Linked DNA regions of Homo sapiens: regions 1 and 2 are each linked to region 3. The links come from fine-mapping of genetic effects on gene expression. A gene starts in region 3. Each other region holds a variant in brackets. All regions are shown on one strand. Distances are from middle to middle.

Region 1 (6,221 bases), 91 kb before region 3:
GAGTGAGCCCATCATATCACCTGCAGTTGGTTCCAGCTCAAGTTTGGGAGTCAGCATTGAGTCTATGAATGTGTAGTGAGAACCCATTTCACAGAAGGCTCGGGCTAGTTTAATGGAGATACAGAGGTGAACAAGCTGAGGTTCTGGCCTTCACACAGCTCCAATCCAAGGAAGGGAAGAACACATAAAGTATAACTGAAGCCTCACCAGGGAGCCACCTGCCCTGCCTCTGACAGCTGAGTGAGAGGAGGACTCTCAGAGAAGATGAGTAAATAGAATTCTTTTTCAGCTATTGATTGAGGATATTGAAAAATGAAAAAATATCAATCACGGAAGCAGTCCTTCATCGGCAGGAGTGCATCAGAGAATTGCGAGGTGAGAATGTGGCTTAGCGTGGAGGCTCTGGTTTTTACTCATTTGCAGGCTGCCTGGCCAAGATCTTCCCAGTCCTGTTTGCTCAAGGTGACATTCACAAAAGATAATGCTAGCCTACTTTTTCTAAAAATAAAGAAATAGTATAATTTCACCTTGCTTTAAGCAACCCTGATCTTTAAAATCCAAGCAAACAGATAAATCAGTAAAGAATTCTTCACTTTATAAAATGTCTCACCACAAGATGGCCTTAAAAGTAAACTCCCAGATTAGTACATTTTAGGTGGAATTTGACTTACAAAAAAAGTGGTTTATATGCATCATTGAAGCAGCACATCTACTATGTAAAGTCAGATATCCTTGTAGTTGATCCAAAGTCATAAATAAAATAAGCAGTCATCCTTCACCAGCATTATTCAATTGAGAAATCTGGAAAGGCAATCTAAACAACAATCTTCCTGTCAGTGGCTATATTATTAGACTGCAGCTTTTCAGTTTCCTGTATGTTGACAGGAAGCTGATCTCCTGAAGGAGAAAGAATACCCACGGGATCATTTCTTCAGCCCCATTAAATGTGAGTCAGGGCCAGTATGTCTGCACATAGCTATTTCAACTGCAGTGAAGAGTTGAAGTAACAGATTGGTATGATTTCCAGGAAAGTTCTAGAATGAAGTATTAATATTTAGATAATGATTTGTGAACACTTAGAAATTAAGAAGTGATTATTCAGAGTTAGTGTAAGCTAACTAAGAAAACGATATCCTATTTTTAAAAAGACTTACTATACCAGTAAAGTTGAGAAATTCCATAGATGAAACATACCCAATTTTGGTGACATATTTCATTAAGTCATGAAATCATCATAGAAAAGGTGAAAAAAATATATATGTGCTCAGTGAAAATGCAGTTATACAGATTTGTATTTTCTTCAGTGGCCAAATTAATGGCTGACGAATAGACCCATGTGAACCTACAGGGAGGTTCCTAGTATGTGTCACAGGGCTTAGCATTTTAGCAATGCCTGGGGGAAAGGTTTGAAAAGCCCTGTTATCAAGATCACATAGTATCTTGGAAGCTGGAAGGCTAACATTAGAAAGCAGAATCTGGATTAGAAAAGTTTTCAGTAAGACAGAAGAATCAAAACAAACAAATAAATATAATTTAAAAGGGATAAGTGTAAAATTTTACATTAAGAATTTTATGGTTGGTCACAGTGGTGCACACCTGTAAATCCAGCACTTTGGGAGGCCGAGGAAGGCAGATCACTTGAGGCAAAGAGTTCGAGACCAGCCTGGCCAACATTGCAAAACCCCATCTCTATTAAAAATACAAAAATTAGCCAGGCATAGTGGTGCACGCCTGTAGTCCCAGTTACTCAGGAGGCAGGAGAATTGCATGAACCTGGGGGATGAAGGTTGCAGTGAGCCAAGATTGCACCACTGCACTCCAGCCTGTAAGACTGTAAGACCCTGTCTATAAGACTCTGTCTTTGTATCAGGATGTATAAACCAAATCCATGATTTAAAGACCACTCAGCCTGTAAGACTCTGTCTCAAACAAAAAGACAGAGAGAGAGAATTTTATATAGAGACAAAATCTGGCTTGATGGAAGGTCATCTGACAGAGAACTAGGTGTTTTGGTAGGCCACAGATTTTATATGGGCCATTAATGAAATATGAATGTTAAAAATTATAACAAAAAGCTAATAGACTCTTGGCAGTTAATACTTATTTTCTCCCAGTTTATCAAGGGTTCTTATCTTCTTTATACTTTTCTGGATTTTCCAAATTTTCACATATGTTATTTTTATGAACAGAAAAACTACTCTTAGAATTTGAAAGTATTTTAATAACTGTCCTATTTTAATAACTGTCCTATGGACATTGGAGCAGGCTATTTCATATAGTTTTAGAGGCTGAAACTAGGGAAAACGGCTTGAAGTTATAGGAGACAATTTTAGCCTAAGTACTCAGCTCACCATCGAGTGGGTTCCCATCCCTGGAAGTGTTTACATAACCGTTGGCTAACTACAGAAGTGGCATATCATAGCATAGCATAGCATAGCATAGCATAGCATAGCATAGCACAGCACAGCACAGCACAGCACAGCACAGCACAGCACAGCACAGCACAGCACAGCATAGCATAGCATAGCAGTGAAAATCTCTGGCTCTGCCAAACTGCCTGGGCTTGCACCTTGGCTATGCTACTGACTTAGACGAGGCATGGTCTTAGATGAGGCATTCCACTATTTCGTCAGCTATAAAAAGGGCATGATAGTAACTGTATTTGTCCATATGGTCGCTAAGGATTAAAAGGATTCATCTGTATCAATATCCTTAAGACAATAACTGGACTATGCTCAATAAACATTATTATCATCTGTCAGAAGTGGTACATAAAGAATCTCTGCCTTGCTTGAGAAACTAGACTAAATGATTACCAAAAGTTACCTCCAATTTCATTATCTTATTGTTCTAAGTCAAGGAGCACCCTTCCTCAGGTGGCACTGTCTTATTACCTAAGCCTGTACTCCTGAATAGAACCCTGATAATAACAAAATTATTGCAGGAGAGCAAAATATATTACAAAGGAAGTGTCCAAAAGCTACTCAGCATCTCATACATTTCATTACCCAGAATAGGAAGCAGGCCCAGTGGTGGCACTGGACATATAAACCAAATCCATGATTTGGCCAGGTGCGGTGGCTCACGCCTGTAATCCCAGCACTTTGGGAGGCTAAGGCGGGCAGATTACGAGGTCAGGAGATCAAGACCATCCTGGCTAACATGGTGAAACCCCATCTCTACTAAAAATACAAAAAATTAGCCGGGCATGGTGGCGGGTGCCTGTAGTCCCAGCTACTCGGGAGGCTGAGGCAGGAGAATCGCTTGAACCTGGGAGGCGGAGGTCGCAGTGAGCTGAGATCGCACCACTGCACTCCAGCCTGGGCGATAGAGAAAGACTCTGACTCAAGAAAAAAAAAAAAATCCATGATTTGAAGTCCCAAGGCCTGGACAAAGGGTAGGGTGAAGAAGAAGAAGAAGGAGCCAAAGGAATACAGAAAACAAACGTCTGTACTTATTGATGTATTTATTTGTTCATTCATTCAACAAATGCATTTACTGAGCACTTACTATGCACTAGGCACTGTACTGGTTCTAAGCC[C/T]CGGAAACCAGGCACAGTTCCTGCCCTAATGGAGTCATATTCAGTGGGAAATATATTTCAACCAAAAAATGACACCAAGAAACATAAAATGACAGTTGTGATCAGCACCTGAAGGAGAAGTACCCAGGGCCATATGGTAGAGAGTTGCCCTGGTCAGAGAGGTCAAGAAAGACAGCCCTGAGGAAGCCATAACTGAGCTGAGATTTGAAGAAAGGGTGAAACTTACAGAAGTAAGTGCATTCTGGACAAAGAGCAGTTGGTGAGAGGAAGCGTGGCAGGTAAAAAGAACTGAAAGAGGCCGAGCGCGGTGGCTCACGCCTGTAATCCCAGCACTTTGGGAGGCTGAGGCAGGTGGATCACAAGGTCAGGAGATTGAGACCATCCTGGTTAACACAGTGAAACCCTGTCTCTACTAAAAATACAAAAAATTAGCTGGGCGTGGTGGCAGGCGCCTGTAGTCCCAGTTACTGCAGAGGCTGAGGCGGGAGAATGGCGTGAACCCGGGAGGCGGAGCTTGCAGTGAGCAGAGATCGCACCACTGCACTCCAGCCTGGGTGACAGAGCGAGACTCCATCTCAAAAAAAAAAAAAAAAGAAGTGAAAGAAGGCCACAGTGGTTGGAGTAAAGAGAGCAAAGCAGAGCATGGTTTGATCTAAAGCTGGCTAGGTACAGGGCCTATGGTCATGTTAAGGAATGTTGCATCCTAAAATCATGGGAGGGCATGCAAACATTTTAAACATCTCAGGGAAGACATGAAAATCAGATGAAGAACTCACTCAGCATACATTGTGGGAGGTGGAGGTCAAAACAGTGGCAGATAGACCAATAAAGAGGCTTTTAAGGTTATCCAGGAAGAGGTGAAGGTAGCTTAGACTAGGATAGTGGGAGTGGAAGTAGGGAAAAAAGTACAGATTCAAAGAGGTTTAGGAAGCAAAATTGAATGTGAAGGGTAAGGCAGAGGGAAAGGTCATGGTGACTCCAAGTTCTGGCCTGCTTAACAATGCGGGTGACATAGGGAACAGCAAAAGGTTTTGGATTAATCAAGAGTTTGGTTTTGGCTATGTTGTGTTTTAGATGCATGTGAAACTTCCAGATGAAAGTATTAGGTAGGAAATTGGATACATGGATCTAAAGCTCAAAGAAGAGACCTGGGCTGGAGAAACATTTTTGCCATGAACGAAGTATAGAATAAGAAAAGAAGACGGCCAAGTGCAGTGGCTCACACCTATAATCCCAGCACTTTGGGAGGCTGAGGTGGGCAGATCACTTGAGGTCAGGAGTTTGAGAACAGCCTAGCCAACATGGTGAAACCCCATCTCTACTAAAAATATAAAAATTAGCCAGGCGTGGTGGCATGCACCTGTAATCCCAGCTACTCAGGAGGATGAGGCAGGAGAATCGCTTGAACCCAGGAGGCAGAGATTGCAGTGAGCCTGCACTCCAGCCTGGGTGACAGAGCCAGACTCCATATCAAAACAAACAAACAAAAAAAGACAAGACTATCTAGGACTGGGCCTTGAGTATTTTAATATGTATTGACCCGGGGAGCATAGGATAAGACTGCAAAAGAGATAGAAAATGAGCAGTCAGAGAAGATGAAGGTAAACAAAAGAGCCTTGCGTCACTGAAGACAAAAAAATACAGTGTTTCGAGGAGGAGGGACAGTCAACAGTGTTGACCACTGCTGAGATGTGAAGGAAGGTGAGTGACCCTGGCACAAGCTGTTTGTCGAGCTCATGAGGTAGGAGCCAGCCTGGCAGTGACCTAAGGAGTGAGCAGGAAGTAAAAAGAGTCAACAAGTATAGATGTTCTCTCTAGAAGTCTCTGTAAAGGGGAGAAGAGAATATGAAAGCTTGAGGGGAAGGTATGCTTGGGGTAGAGTTATCTCCACTCCCCCACCCCACCCGCCAGTGGGAGCCTTGTGTACACTTTAAATCTGGCAAACAGAATCCAGTTGAGGAGCAGAGATTAAACATGAAAACATAATGAGAGAGTGAGAGTGCAGTACATGGGCAAGGAACTGAAAAAGAATAGATGACAAAGGGGACTAGCCTTTTGGCTAGGGACATGAGGCAGGTAGAATTGCCTGGTCAAAAGGTGGTCACAAATGGTGAGAACTGTGTTGACATTATGCAAATACTGATGGAGAGTGAAGCAGTTGGGGTCAAAGACTCCGTGGTGCTCCCCAGGTTTAGGGTTCCGAGTGAAGTATTTGTGAGAAGTTGGTAAGGTATCACTAAAGAAATCCCAGCTCGGATATCTCAGAGATAAGGTCTCTGCCCAAAATAGAAATTGCAGCAGCCCCATGTGATTTCCCACAGACCTCTTCTGAGTTGAAATCCAGACCAGCCACTCTCTGAGGAAATGATATGAACCATGTTTCCTTATTCAAGGACACAAAATAACTTCCCCACACCATTCTATTTTGCAAATGAGGAAACTGAGCTGCATCTCTAGCTGGGGCTCATCTCACCCAGAATGAAGAATTTGGAGTTGGTTTCGGTCCAAGTTTCCAGTGTCTTCAAAAAGGTAGAATGCCCACATGGCATAAAGCCATTAACTGAGACACAGTGTCCTGAGACACCCACAATCCCTTGTGAAGTCACAGCAAGGAAGAAAATCTACTTTGTTTGAGTATCTTCTGGGTGCCAGGCTCTGTGTAGGTTGCTTTTGCAGACAT
Region 2 (6,221 bases), 100 kb before region 3:
CAAGGATATAGAGCCAGCCAGGGGCAGAGCAAGAACCTGGAGGCCCTACCACCCAGGGCTCAGCTTGCCTCATTATTATACTGCCTCTTGAAAACCCTTGCTGAGATTTGAGTTCTTCCAGCTTTTATTGTCACCATTAAAAATATTAATGGTCCAACAATGCAAAAGCCCAACTAGAGTTTCCTTGAAATGCCTTACCACGGTGGAGGCACACTGTGTGTGAAGCATCATTAAACTCCGCTGCCTGCCCATGGACCAAGCAAGGGGAAAGAGCAATAGATCCTTCTTGTAAAACCAAGGGTATATTCAAAGTCACCCTCATTAGCCTGAGCTTTTCACCCATATTACAATCATGGCTCTGTTAATAAGAGGACCCCATCACAGTAGCACTCTGGTGTCAGCATCTTCATTACCAGAAGTAGACATTGTATCTGAGATGTCAAGGTATGTTTCAATGCTGGATTTTTCTTGCAGGAGAGCCTTGGTGAATCACTCTTTTTTCTCTCTCCATCCCCTTGCCTTGCATATTTTGCAATTACAAATGTGCTTCCACATTTATGATGAGAGCTACCAAGGGCTGGATTCAGAAGTACCATTCTGCTCCAGAATGCTGGGCTATGTGGGCTCCAAGTGTGACCCTGCTCTGGGGAGGCTGGAAGCCAAGGAGCACCTCCAGGAACAAATTGTAATAAGACATGGCCAGTTATTCATCCTCCTGACCAAGACCATGTGCTGAGAGGATCAGAGCTGCTGCCTGAACCCCAGTAGTCAAAACAAAAGAGGATTGCTATTGAAGGTATCTATTGGTATAGCAACACTAAGCCAGATTTAGAGCACAAGTCTTCCAAATCAACATTTGAGCTGTCCACTATGAGAAGCTTGGGGCTATACCATTAAATTCTAATTTTAATCATTCATCCTGAGATGTTTGATATTTTGATATCAAAAAGCCTTCAAAGGTTGATCCTGGATGGCATCTGCCTGAATCTTACCTGACAACAGCATGCAAAGGAAGGACACCTGTATCCTAACCCCAGTTCCAGCCATAACTGGCCATCTGACAAAGCTATAGGACCTCTCTCAGCCTTCTCAGTTTCCTTATCAGAGCAAAGGTGATACTTCCTACTAAGGCAAGTACTTCAACAATGACATTAGGTAATACAGGCAAAGACACACGGGAAAAAGTAAAGCACTGTGGTCATGAGGGAGACAATTGTGTTTTTTTTTTTTCTTCCTTTGCTTGTGCTATTATCCTGCCATGTGAAAACTTGAGGACTCTGGTTAGTCAGAGCCAATGTCAGAAGATTTTAATCATCCCCAGTGTCCATTTATAAGAATTTCCTGAAGTCTTGGTGTATGTTATGGTTTGGATGTGCTTTGTCCCTGCTGAAACTCATGGTGAAGTTTGATCCCCAATGTGGCAATGTTGTGAGGTGGAACCTAGAGGGAGTCGTGGGTCATGGGGGGTGGATCCCTTATGAATAGATTAATGCCCTTCCACAGGGGTGAATGAGTTCTCATTCTTGTGTGAATGGATTAGTTTCCTCCAGGACAGGCTGTTAAAAAAGAGTCTGGCTTCTTCAGTTTTCCCCTCTTGCTTCCTCTCTTGCCATGTGATCTCTTTGCACATGCCTGCTCCCCTTTCATTGTCTGCTATGAGTCAAAGCAGCATGAGAACCTCACCAGATGCAGCTGCCCCACCTTGGACTTTTTGGCCACCAGAATCATGAGCCAAATAAACCTCTTTTTTTTTTTTTTAACAAATTACCCAGTCACAGCTAACACAAAAATGGACTAAGACAGTGTATTCTCTTTCTAATATCAATAATACATACCTCTACAGGGGATATGGATATATGTCCTTTTTATTTATTTTTTATTTTTTGAGACAGAGTCTTGCTCTGTTGCCTAGACTGGAATGCAATGGCACAATCTCGGCTCACTGCAGCCTCCACCTCCCAGGTTCCAGTGATTCTCCTGCCTCAGCCTCCCGAGTAGCTGGGATTATAGGTGCCCACCACCAGGTGTGGCTAATTTTTGAATTTTTAGTAGAGACGGGGTTTTGCCATGTTGGTCAGGCTGACCTCGAACTCCTGACCTCAGGTGATCTGCTGACCTCGGCCTCCCAAAGTGCTGGGATTACAGGCATGGGCCACCATGCCCAGCCATGTGTGTGTTCTTACCCAAGCCTTTCAATGACACAGGAACCAGTTTCAAAGAATTTTTTTAATGTATTTCCTGTTAAGGATGGCTTCTTCTCGGACCTTCTCTCCAGTATCAACCTAAAATCAAAGGTTACCACGCAGCCTGCAGGGTAACCTGGACTTTTATGTAAACCTGTCTTGTGATGTTGTGAGATGCAAATGGATAAAAATTACTGAGATGGCAACTGTTTGAAAAGCAGCCTGCCCTTGGAGCAGAGGCCTCCATTACTCAGCCTAAACAGTCATCATGGCCTCTATTTGTTAAAAACAAAATAAAACCATGTTAAATCAAGTTCAGCCTAAAGCTCTCTGCTTACATATTTTAAGTTCAGCCTAAAGGTTTTTCTGTACATTGTGAACTATAACAAGTGGAGGTGTAACCAGACCATAGCCTACACTTGTGCCAGTCACCAAGTTTTGGCCAATCCAATGTAGCTAACAGTTCAACCATGTACAAATAAGGCAAATGCCGAGCTGTAACCAATGCAGCTGTTTCCATACCTCACTTCCATTTTCTGTACATCACTTTCCTTTTTCTGTTCATAAATCTTGTTCCACCACGTGGCTGCGCTGCGCCCCTGAGCCTACC[C/G]TGGCTCAGGAGGCTGCCCGATTCGCGAATTGTTCATTGCTCAATTAAACTCCTTTAAATTTAACTTGGTTGAAGTTTTTCTTGGTTTTTTTTTTTTTTTTTTTTGAGACGAAGTCTCACTGTCGCCCAGGCTGGAGTGCAGTGGCGCGATTACAGCTCACTGCAACCTCTGCCTCCCAGGTTCAAGCAATTCTCCTGCCTCAGCGTCCCGAGTAGCTGGGATTACTGGCATGTGCCATCACACACAGTTAATTTTTGTATTTTTAGTAGCGATGGGGTTTTGCCATGTTGCCCAGGCTGGTCTCAAACTCCTGGCTTAAGGGATCCACCTGCCTTGGCCTCCCAGTGTGCTAGGATTACAGGCAAGAGCCACTGTGCCCAGCTAAGTTTTTCTTTTATCAACCAAAAAACCCCGAGTGACTCAGAAAGTAACTTGCACTAGGAAAAAAGAAAGAGAAAGAGATAGAGATAGAGAGGTGGATTAAAGAGACTTAAAGTCATGTTGATATGTACTCTGTACCCCCAGATACAAGGCCATGAGAAGGAAACTTTATTCTATGCGAAGAATCAGTGGTATTCTTCCCCAAAACCCATAACCTTAGTCTAATCATAAGAGAACATCAGACAAATCCAAATTGAGAGACTTTCTACAAAATATCTGACCAGAACTCTTCAAAATTGTCAAGCTCATGAAAAACAAGACTGACTAATGCACAAATCAGAGGAGTCTAAGGAATCATAATGACTATTAATAAATGTATTGTGGTCTCCTGAATTGGAAAAAAAGTGGCATCAAGGGAAAAACTAGTGAAATCTGAATAAAGCCTATAGGTTAGTTAATAGTAATGTACCAATGATTACCTCAGTTTTGACAAGTATGCAGTAATTATGTAAGATGCTAATATAAGGGGGACTGGGTGAAAAGTACACAGGAACTCTCTGTACTGTGTCTGCAACTTTTCTGTAAATCTATGATTATTCCAAAATAAACAGTTTATTTTGAAAAGGGGCAAAGAAAGACTTAATAAACATATCAAATAGTCATATTGTAGGACTTTACTTGAATCATGATGAAACTATTTTAAAAATTTGTTTATGAGACAACTGAAAATTTAAATACAGTATATTTGATTATATTAAGAAATTAATTATTAACTACTTTTAAGCGTATTTGTGATATTGTTACATTTTTAAAAAGAAGTGTTTAATTTTTAGAAAAACAAACTAAAATATTTACAGATTAAATGATATGATGTCTTGAATTTGCTTCAAAAATAATACAGGAGGGAGAAATTAGTAGGGATATAGGTTAACAAGATGTCAGAAAATAATTACGGAAAATGAGTGATGGCATGATAGTTTGGTTGTGTTTTGTTTTTGAGATGGAGTCTCGCTCTATCGCCCAGGCTGGAGTGCAGTGGCGCGATCTTGGCTCACTGCTACCTTTGCCTCCCGGGTTCAAGCGATTCTCATGCCTCAGCCTCCTGAGTAAGCTGGGATTACAGGCATGCACCACCATGCCAGGCCAATATTTGTATTTTTAGTACAGATCGGGTTTCATCATGTTGGCCAGGCTGGTCTTGAACTCCTGACCTCAGGTGATCCACCTGCCTCAGCCTCCCAAAGTGCTGGGATTACAGGCGTGAGGCACCGCATCTGGGGAGAGTTCATTATTTTTATTTTGTCTTGTTTTGTATATGTTTGAAGTTTTCCAGAATTAAAAAAACTAATTTTAAGAATCCAAAGAAGAAAAACCATAAGCCCCTAACATTTCGATCACATAGCATTATCTTTGCTGCTGTATTTGCCACCTCAGCAACTCTCCAATTATTGTCATTCAGTTTGCCACTCTTACCAAACCACAGATGAGCTCTGGAGCCGAAGTCCTCTCTAGATCTGTCCACTCACATGAGCCTCTGGAACTTATCAAGCATATGAAAACATCGTCATTCACCTGGAAAATTAACGCCAGGAAGCAGAAGGGGTTTTTGCCTACTCTGCTGGCTACAGGGGTCATCTAGGCCCAACAGCAAGGAAATAAGGGTGTCTGTGCAAGCCTCAGGGCAGCCCCATCCTTCATCCAACTGTAAGAGCAGAAAGGTCCCTCCTCTCTCTCTTGGAGATGGTTTAGACACTTTAGTTCCTTTCAACCTCGAAGCAAATTGGATCTGAATGCAGATGAGCAAGAATAGAATAGAGACAAGTCAAGACTTAAGTTTAATGCAAACCTTTTTTCCCCCCAGTGCAGAAGTCTTATTAAAGAAACAGCATGATGCTGACAGGATAGTGTTTGTAAGTAGAAATAACACTTATTATAACAAGTTAGAACAGCAGGCAGATAGGTTTGTTTGTTTGTTAATTATATCTGGTTTTATTTTCTAATGAGTGCCTTAAGAAAGGGGGGAATCATTCTGACAGCTGTTTGAAACTAACTTTTAAGTCCTCTTAGTAAAATGATGTGGAGCCATCCGGTTCTATGAAGCAACAAGAGGTTCCCCCACCCACCATTTTGTCCATCGGATCCATGAAGATTAACGATTTATAATCCCATGAATGGGATCTAAATTCCTGCTTTAATAGATACAGAAAGTTTTTCGCTTACCCGTGGGGAAGGTACTGATAGAGACATGCATAGAATGCATATGTAATTTGTCCACATTTATAGAATGTAATCTACAGCTCTTCTCTAAGTATCATATTCCCAGAAAGACAAAACATATTTGTCTTTAGAGGAAAGTGTTAACTTTATCCAGACTAACTTTGACTAAATGCCTACACAGCCATGAATCAGAAAAGACATACAACTTTTAAAACAAGGATTGAGAGAAGAAAGGAAAAACAAACCTGTCTGGGAAACGGGGTTGGGAGTGAATTAACTGGCAATAGTGTTTTTAAATTGCCCTAGAGGTAAATTAAGCCTCCTACTTTTTTGTCAGAAATGAGTAATTACTAGAAGGAGGCAGCGTAGTCCACATCTTGGCATTTTTACCCAGAATTAAATCTGCACATTATACATTCACACTCTATGTTTAAAAAAATGAGACACTTTTTAGTGAAACTATAAACACCTGCACAGCCAAACAAGGATTCTTGAGAGATCACATCTACGCAGACAGAGTGGTCTGAATTATTTAGACCACAGCAAAAATATGTGTGACAGATGAAACAGAATCATTAAGAGAAAAAGCAGAGTTTGTTGAACAGATAATCCCAGAGGGATTGCCCTCCTTCTTTTTCCCTAGGCAGGTCCCTTCTCTCAGATTACCTTCAAAACTGTGTTTAGAACAATGCCTCTCGCAGGAAGCCCTCCTTGGTTAACTGACATGATCCTGTCATTCGGCTCCTCTTTGCCATAGCAAGTGCATCTGTATTTTGCATTTGGTCCTAAGCAGCTTGTTTTATATCATTATTGAAGTCTATCTATGCCT
Region 3 (6,221 bases):
ATTCCTTTTTTTTTTTTTTTTTTTTTTTTTGAGACGGACGCTTCCTCTGTTGCCCAGGCTGGAGTGCAATGGTGCAGTCTCAGCTCACTGCAACCTCCACCTCCCGGCTCAAGTGATTCTCCTGCCTCAGCCTCCCGAGTAGCTGTGATTACAGGGGACGTGCCACCGCGCCCAGCTAATTTTTGTATTTTTAGTAGAGATGGGGTTTCACCATGTTGGCCAGGCTGGTCTTGAACTCCTGACCTCAGGTGATCCACCCGCCTCGGCCTCCCAAAGTGTTGGGATTACAGGCATGAGCCACTGCGCCCAGCCAAGGGGTCATTCCTAAATCTTCCTCCCGTCTGCATTAATGTCCCTTCTCTGTGCTTCTCACACTATTTATGAGACTGTCAACTCCTTGAGGGAAGGCATTGTGGCTTTTCTTTTCTGTATTCAATACCACCAGAATCTAATAATCATTGCCTCTAAATACATTACAGGGAGGTAGAGGTTGGCTTACCATAAGAGAAATTTTTTACAGTATATTGTATATAAGCAGAGTATAGACTAGTGGCTAAGAATCTAGCCTTGGTGTCATACTGCCTTTGTTCAAATTTCAGCCTTCTGTGTTACCTTGAGCAGTTTAATCTGTCTGTGCCTCATAAAATGGAGATAATATTACCTATGTCATTAGGTTGTTGTGCGAATTAAATGAAATAACACATGAAAAATACTTGGCTCCATTCCTGGTATCTTGTAAGCACTTAGCAATGTTAGAAATTACTACTTTTCTCCTAGTTATTATGATCATTTACTAGCACTGTATCACAACGAGGTGGGTTGTTTTGGGAAGCAATGAGTCACCTTTTATTGAAAGTATTCAAGCAGCAGCAAATCCAGCAGAGATGCTGTAGAAGCAGTTCCTGAGTTAAAAAGATTAGATGACTTCTAAGAATGCTTCTAATCATAGAAGAGGGAAGCTCTTTCTCTGATTCTAGGAAAGTGTGATCATTAGTGTTACTTCTAGCAAAACTGAGGATTGTTAGAACAGGGGGAAAAGGCACTGGAATTGGCCACATGCATATATTACAAAAAACAAAATATTTTCTTTGTGAGCAGTTGTTTTACTTATGTTGTAACCCACATGGCAAATCAGGCCCTTACATGGAAATTCATCTCTTCTCAAAAGGACTAGCTTGGCCCTGCCAAAATGGAACAGACAAAACTTTAAAGACTGTTCTAGCCCTACTGAAATGTCTTTTCCTTTTGAAAGCAGTCTATTAGTGATGCAAATGCAAAGTTATTTGGACAGACGATAATCTCAGCAAACAAAACACTGAAGTCATTAGAACTTTCTTGTGCAGCTTTCAGTCCTGAGAATTTGGCTTTCTGGCACTAAAAAGGCAGAGGCCGGGTGCAGTGGCTCATGCCTGTAATCCCACCACTTCAGGAGGCCGAGGCAGGCGGATCATCTGAGGTCGGGAGTTCAAGAGCAGCCTGACCAACAAGGAGAAATCCCATCTCTACTAAAAATACAAAAATTAGCTGGGTGTGGTGTTGCATGCCTGTGATCCCAGCTACTTGGGAGGCTGAGGCAGGAGAATCGCTAAGAACCCGGGAGGCAGAGGTTTCAGTGAGCTGAGATTGCACCCTTGCACTCAAGCCTGGACAACTAGAGCGAAACTCCTTCTCAAAAAAAAAAAAAAAAAAAAGGCAGAGGAAAAGAGCAGACCTGGCTTCCATTTGGGATAATTTGTCAGGTCTGCTTATCTGAATCCTTGGCTAATTATTCTTGCGCTTGGCCTAAACATGCCAAACAATTCTCCAAATGTGGACAAACTGAAGGAAGGCCTGTAATCTGGGTCCTGGGCAAGTACCTTAAACAAGCAAAAGCAAGACCTTTGGCTATGGAATAACATTTATAGTCAGGAGTTTCTCAAGATACCAGAGCCTGAAGGTAGATCCATCGAGAAGATATTCAATGATATGCACTCCTAAGGCAATAATTTAAGTGATACTTTCATATTACTGATGCTTTAAAATTTAATAATTAAAAATTACACAACTGAAAGGCTACTTATATAGGTGAAGAGATAACCATTTTCAAACATCAATTTAGTCAACAGATACTCAAAGTAAACAATTTGAGAATTTAGTACATATGCAATTTTCCTATGAGCAAAAGGATTCAAAAGATTTTTTGAAAAAGTATGAAGCAGTTAACTCTAAGTAGTTTGCTCTACTATTAATTTATTATACTTATCCTTAACAGGTTTGATGAGACCTAGTTTCTCAGGAGCCACGAGGTATTAGGGAATATTAGTGGTTAGAAGGTGTGGTGCCTAAGGGGATTAGGAAAGCATTTCTGAAGCAAAACTCCAACGTGGTATTGCCAAAGTGGCCATCACCTAATTGATTAAAGCTCCTGCAAATGTCTATTGGGAAGTTCAATGAGAACAGAAAAATAACCTTCCATTACCCTCAAGCTTTCTTGGGCAAGTATTAACAATCGGAGCTGGAGTCCACATAGCTCAGATGTAAGACGCGCAATCTGGGTCTTAAGCAGGGTGGGGTTTTTGGGTAGGTAAGGTCACAGCTAAAGAGCTTCCGGATCGTCACGTGTTTATATTTCAGGTGCGGTAATAGATCTAGTCCACTCTCCACCCCTTCTTTACAGGGTTGCTTGACAGCCTGCGCAGTCCCCGCCCGTCTTTGATAATCCAACCCTCTTCGAAGAGGGAGGTCAATCACTGCTTTAGTTCTGCGCTCTGCCTGCCTCCCACGCGGGATGGTGGGCAGCTGTTCCGCGTGTTTTCCTCCCGGAGCTTTCACGCTCTGCCCACTGCACACACCTCCCTCGCGGCCCTCCTGGCCTGCCCTCCTTTGCACCCTGGCAGGCCAACTCCAAGGGTCCGAGTGTCGGTGACAGGGGCAAGCAAGCACAGCTCACTTTTCCTGGGGGTTTTCCTCACGGTGTGTTTAGTGACCCCTCCCCGCAATCCCAGAAAGGCTGCAGCACTCCATGGTATCCTACATGTAGCTGCTTCTAAAATAATAAAGGCTGGGACATTGGCTGTCTTGGATATTACCACTATGCTACCTGCTTGGAACTGGGACCAGATAGACCAAGGTCCAACTTTGTCGTTAGGGGAATCAGAAACGAAAAGAAGCCACTTTCTGCTAGTCCTAACCCCGGTCCCTGGGCCAGGCAAACCTTTTCAAGCGTCCGGCGGCAGCGGCCGGGCGCGGGTCCGCAGAAAAGCCGAGGCGTTTCGGGTCCCAAGCTGTTCCGCCGCCGGCCCCGGCCTGGCAGGCGCGCGGAGCCGGAACGCGCAAGGGGTCGGGTGCGCGCCAGGCCTGGCGCGCTCCCTCCGGGATCGCGGCTGCGCAGTCGGGCGGGAGTCGGGAAAAGGGGAGGAGGTTGGAGGAGCCGGAGTAAGGGGAGGGGGAGGAGCGGCGAAAGCGGAAGCCATGTTGGAGTTTCACCCCGAGCGAGGGGCTGCGAGGGTTCTCCTCTCCTTGTGGGTGTGACCAGGTTCGGCGCGGCGGCGGGCCGCGGGGGGCGGGGACGATTGGCCGCTTGTCGTCGTCCGCAGCGGCGTGAGGGGAGCGGCGGCGGCGGCGGCGGCCGCAGCGTGGAGCCGGGTGATTGTGACCGCCGGGGGAGCCGGGAGCCGGCCGCGGCGCCCTCTCTCCGTGTGGCCCCCTGAGCGGCCCCCCTCCCCTGCCCGGGAGGGAGGCGGGGGGCACCTGGGGCCCGCCATGAACCCCGGCTTCGATTTGTCCCGCCGGAACCCGCAGGAGGACTTCGAGCTGATTCAGCGCATCGGCAGCGGCACCTACGGCGACGTCTACAAGGTAAAGGCAGGGGCCGCGCGCCGCCGAGGCCGTGGGATCCCGACCCGCAGCCAAGCCTGGGCGTCCGAGCCCTTGCCGCCTGTCCTCGGGAGACGCTGGCGCCAGGGAGCAGTCGGGGAGGAGGAGCTGCGGACGCCAAGGGCTCTGCTGCCTTGGTGAACAAAGGGCCGAATGTTTAACCCCGAGACCTCCCCAGCCCTTACCTGAGCCCCCCCGGTGGACATGATTTTTGCCACCTCCCTTCTTGCGCGCATTTCCAGGGAAGGGCAGAACGAGAGCAGGCCACACTGCTCATCCATAGTGCAGAGAAGGTCTGGGCGTTTGTTGCGTTGGCAGGGTCAGCGCGACGAACCGGACAGCAGGGGTCTGGTGTTGTCAAACCTGCCTGCTTCACGCCAACCTGGGGTCGTCCGCTCTAGGTTGGGAGCTGCTGCCCACCAGGCCTCGGTGGTAGTTATTATACTATGCTGAGCGACCTCCATCTTCCATCGACAGCTCTCAGCCTTTAGCGCCTTATTCATCCCCCTGTCAGTTTCTTTTAATTTTCCAGAGTAATGACTTTTTTTTTTTTTTGGAAAGAGCAACTTTGTTTTCTCTAAGTCGAATTGGACTGCGATGCCATTTAAACTTGTTTTTTAAAAAGTGACTTGAATACTTAGGGAAGGTACTGGTTTGACAAGGTTAGAATTCAAAGTCCAGTAGCGGTACAGCATTCCTGTTGTAGAGGGACCACTTCTAAATGTGGGAAGATAAATCACTCTTCCCTGGCCAACTCAACTCTTGGCCTCACAGTTACTGCCAAGAAGAGAGGAGGTTGTTGCCAAATGTGGCAGCAGTCTTGATTTAGTTGTGTATCTTCTTACTGGTAACTGAAGTTGAACTCCTCCAGTTTCACATAACACCTGAGGATGCACAAAGAAACTTAATTTTGCATTGGAAAGTTCAGTCTTAACTTTATTTTGCCCATGTTTAAGCAGGTTTTTACTCTTCAGTGTAATGCCTGTGGTAACTTACATATTTAATACAGTGCAGCCAGTGTTCTGCTTTAGTCTGATTTTCTGGATGATCTACTTTTCACCATCGTGGATCTCATCACTTTTCCTACTATGCAATATAGATATATTGAGCCCACCTACAATGTATGAGATACTTGGCAAGTAAGCACTTTGGGTTGTAGCAGTAAACGATAGACTTGGTTCCAAATCTTCCTAAGTGTTTCTATTTTTTTGGACAAGGACAGTATTAAATAGCCATTTAAATAATTATTGCCGTTTAATTTTGTGATGCAGAAAAGAGTATTAGGATCAGGGTTATGAGAGCATGTAATAGGAGGACCTGATCCTGTTTAGGGTATCAGACGCTCATCGCCTTTCAGCTGAGATCTCAGAGATGATTAGGCGTTGCTTAGGGTACTGGGGAGAGGGGATTACGCCAGATAGGGGAGCATGATATGTGAAGGCTCTGAGGCCCGATGTGAAAGAAGGCCTGTATAGCCTGAGCAGCCAGAGCGGGAGGGTGGCCCTAGATCTTGCAGGCCTCTTAGTTCTCATTAGGAGATCGGACTTGTTTAGGACAATGGGGAACTATTGCAGGCTTTTAAGCAGAGGAGTGACATTAGATTTAGGTTTTTAAAAGAGCTCCCTACTACAGCATGAAGAGTGGAATGGAGCAGTTGGGAGGCCACTGTGATAGTCTAGGTAAGAATAATGGTGTTAAGGAATATGGTGATGACTGTGAAAGTAGAAGTGGATGGATGCAAGTCACTTATGACTGGTTGGGGGAGTTCGCTTATATTGCGATGAAAAGTTAACTAAAACTCGATGAATGTATACGTTTTAGGTGGCAGGGTATACAGTGAATTTTTTTACAGGACTAATTGGCTGTGTACTTGCTATATTAAAAAGAACAGTTAGTAGTTAAGCCACATGATTAAAAAGCAAAAAAAAATTAGGGCCTGTAATTTCCTAAGTGTAATAGAGGTATACTAAGTTGGTTAATCTTGTCATTCGTTTAAAATAATGATAATACTAGCTGATGTTTATGGAATGCTTGTTACTTGCCAGGCACTATAAGATTTTTCTAATTAATCCTAACAGCAACCCTGTGAGATAGGTGCTATTGTTAACTCCATTTTGCAGTTGAATAAACTGAGGCACAAGGAGATTAACTTGCCAAAGTTGGTAGGTGGCAAAGCCAAAATTTGAACCAATTAGGGACTGTATTCTTAACCAATTGGCAGTGCTGCCTCTCTAAAGATAGGAGATGGGCAGATAATGTATTACATTTCCAGTGGAGAAACTGAGGCACACATTTAGTTTAGCATTTGAGTTGTAGCCACACTCTGAGTCAGTGTAGATCTTTAAGTAGTAGTTGGAATACCTAAT

Which allele goes with the higher level. Alleles are on the strand shown, and positions count from the first base shown. SD is a standard deviation of normalised expression in the study named.
In carriers of allele T in region 1, the expression in subcutaneous fat of the gene that starts at base 3,444 in region 3 tends to be higher than with C alone (moderate effect, 0.45 SD a copy in TwinsUK).
For the expression in subcutaneous fat of the gene that starts at base 3,444 in region 3, C is the low allele of the variant in region 2 and G is the other (small effect, 0.19 SD a copy in GTEx).

The links. PIP is the estimated chance that this variant, and not a neighbour inherited with it, causes the effect. A credible set is the group of variants that fine-mapping cannot tell apart.
Region 1: its variant is the best candidate, but not a certain one, in a credible set for the expression of MAP4K3 in subcutaneous fat (TwinsUK, PIP 0.63).
Region 2: its variant is the best candidate, but not a certain one, in a credible set for the expression of MAP4K3 in subcutaneous fat (GTEx, PIP 0.89).

Annotation. Positions count from the first base shown.
Region 1 is chr2:39,525,189-39,531,409 of GRCh38, reverse strand. The region is part of intron 5 of MAP4K3-DT (MAP4K3 divergent transcript); the gene reads right to left. Among named protein-coding and RNA genes, the nearest start is that of MAP4K3-DT, 91 kb to the right of the region's middle. RefSeq lists an enhancer at 4,041-4,100. The variant C/T (reference allele first, on the strand shown) is at 3,542.
Region 2 is chr2:39,534,376-39,540,596 of GRCh38, reverse strand. The region is part of intron 5 of MAP4K3-DT (MAP4K3 divergent transcript); the gene reads right to left. Among named protein-coding and RNA genes, the nearest start is that of MAP4K3-DT, 100 kb to the right of the region's middle. The variant C/G (reference allele first, on the strand shown) is at 2,794.
Region 3 is chr2:39,434,508-39,440,728 of GRCh38, reverse strand. MAP4K3 (mitogen-activated protein kinase kinase kinase kinase 3) reads left to right here and starts at 3,444. Exons shown (of 34, transcript NM_003618.4): 1 at 3,444-3,837. The coding sequence starts at 3,742. It overlaps MAP4K3-DT (MAP4K3 divergent transcript), which reads right to left and starts at 3,313. Exons shown (of 6, transcript NR_037875.1): 1 at 3,194-3,313. RefSeq lists silencers at 3,191-3,410, 3,481-3,840 and an enhancer at 4,171-4,250.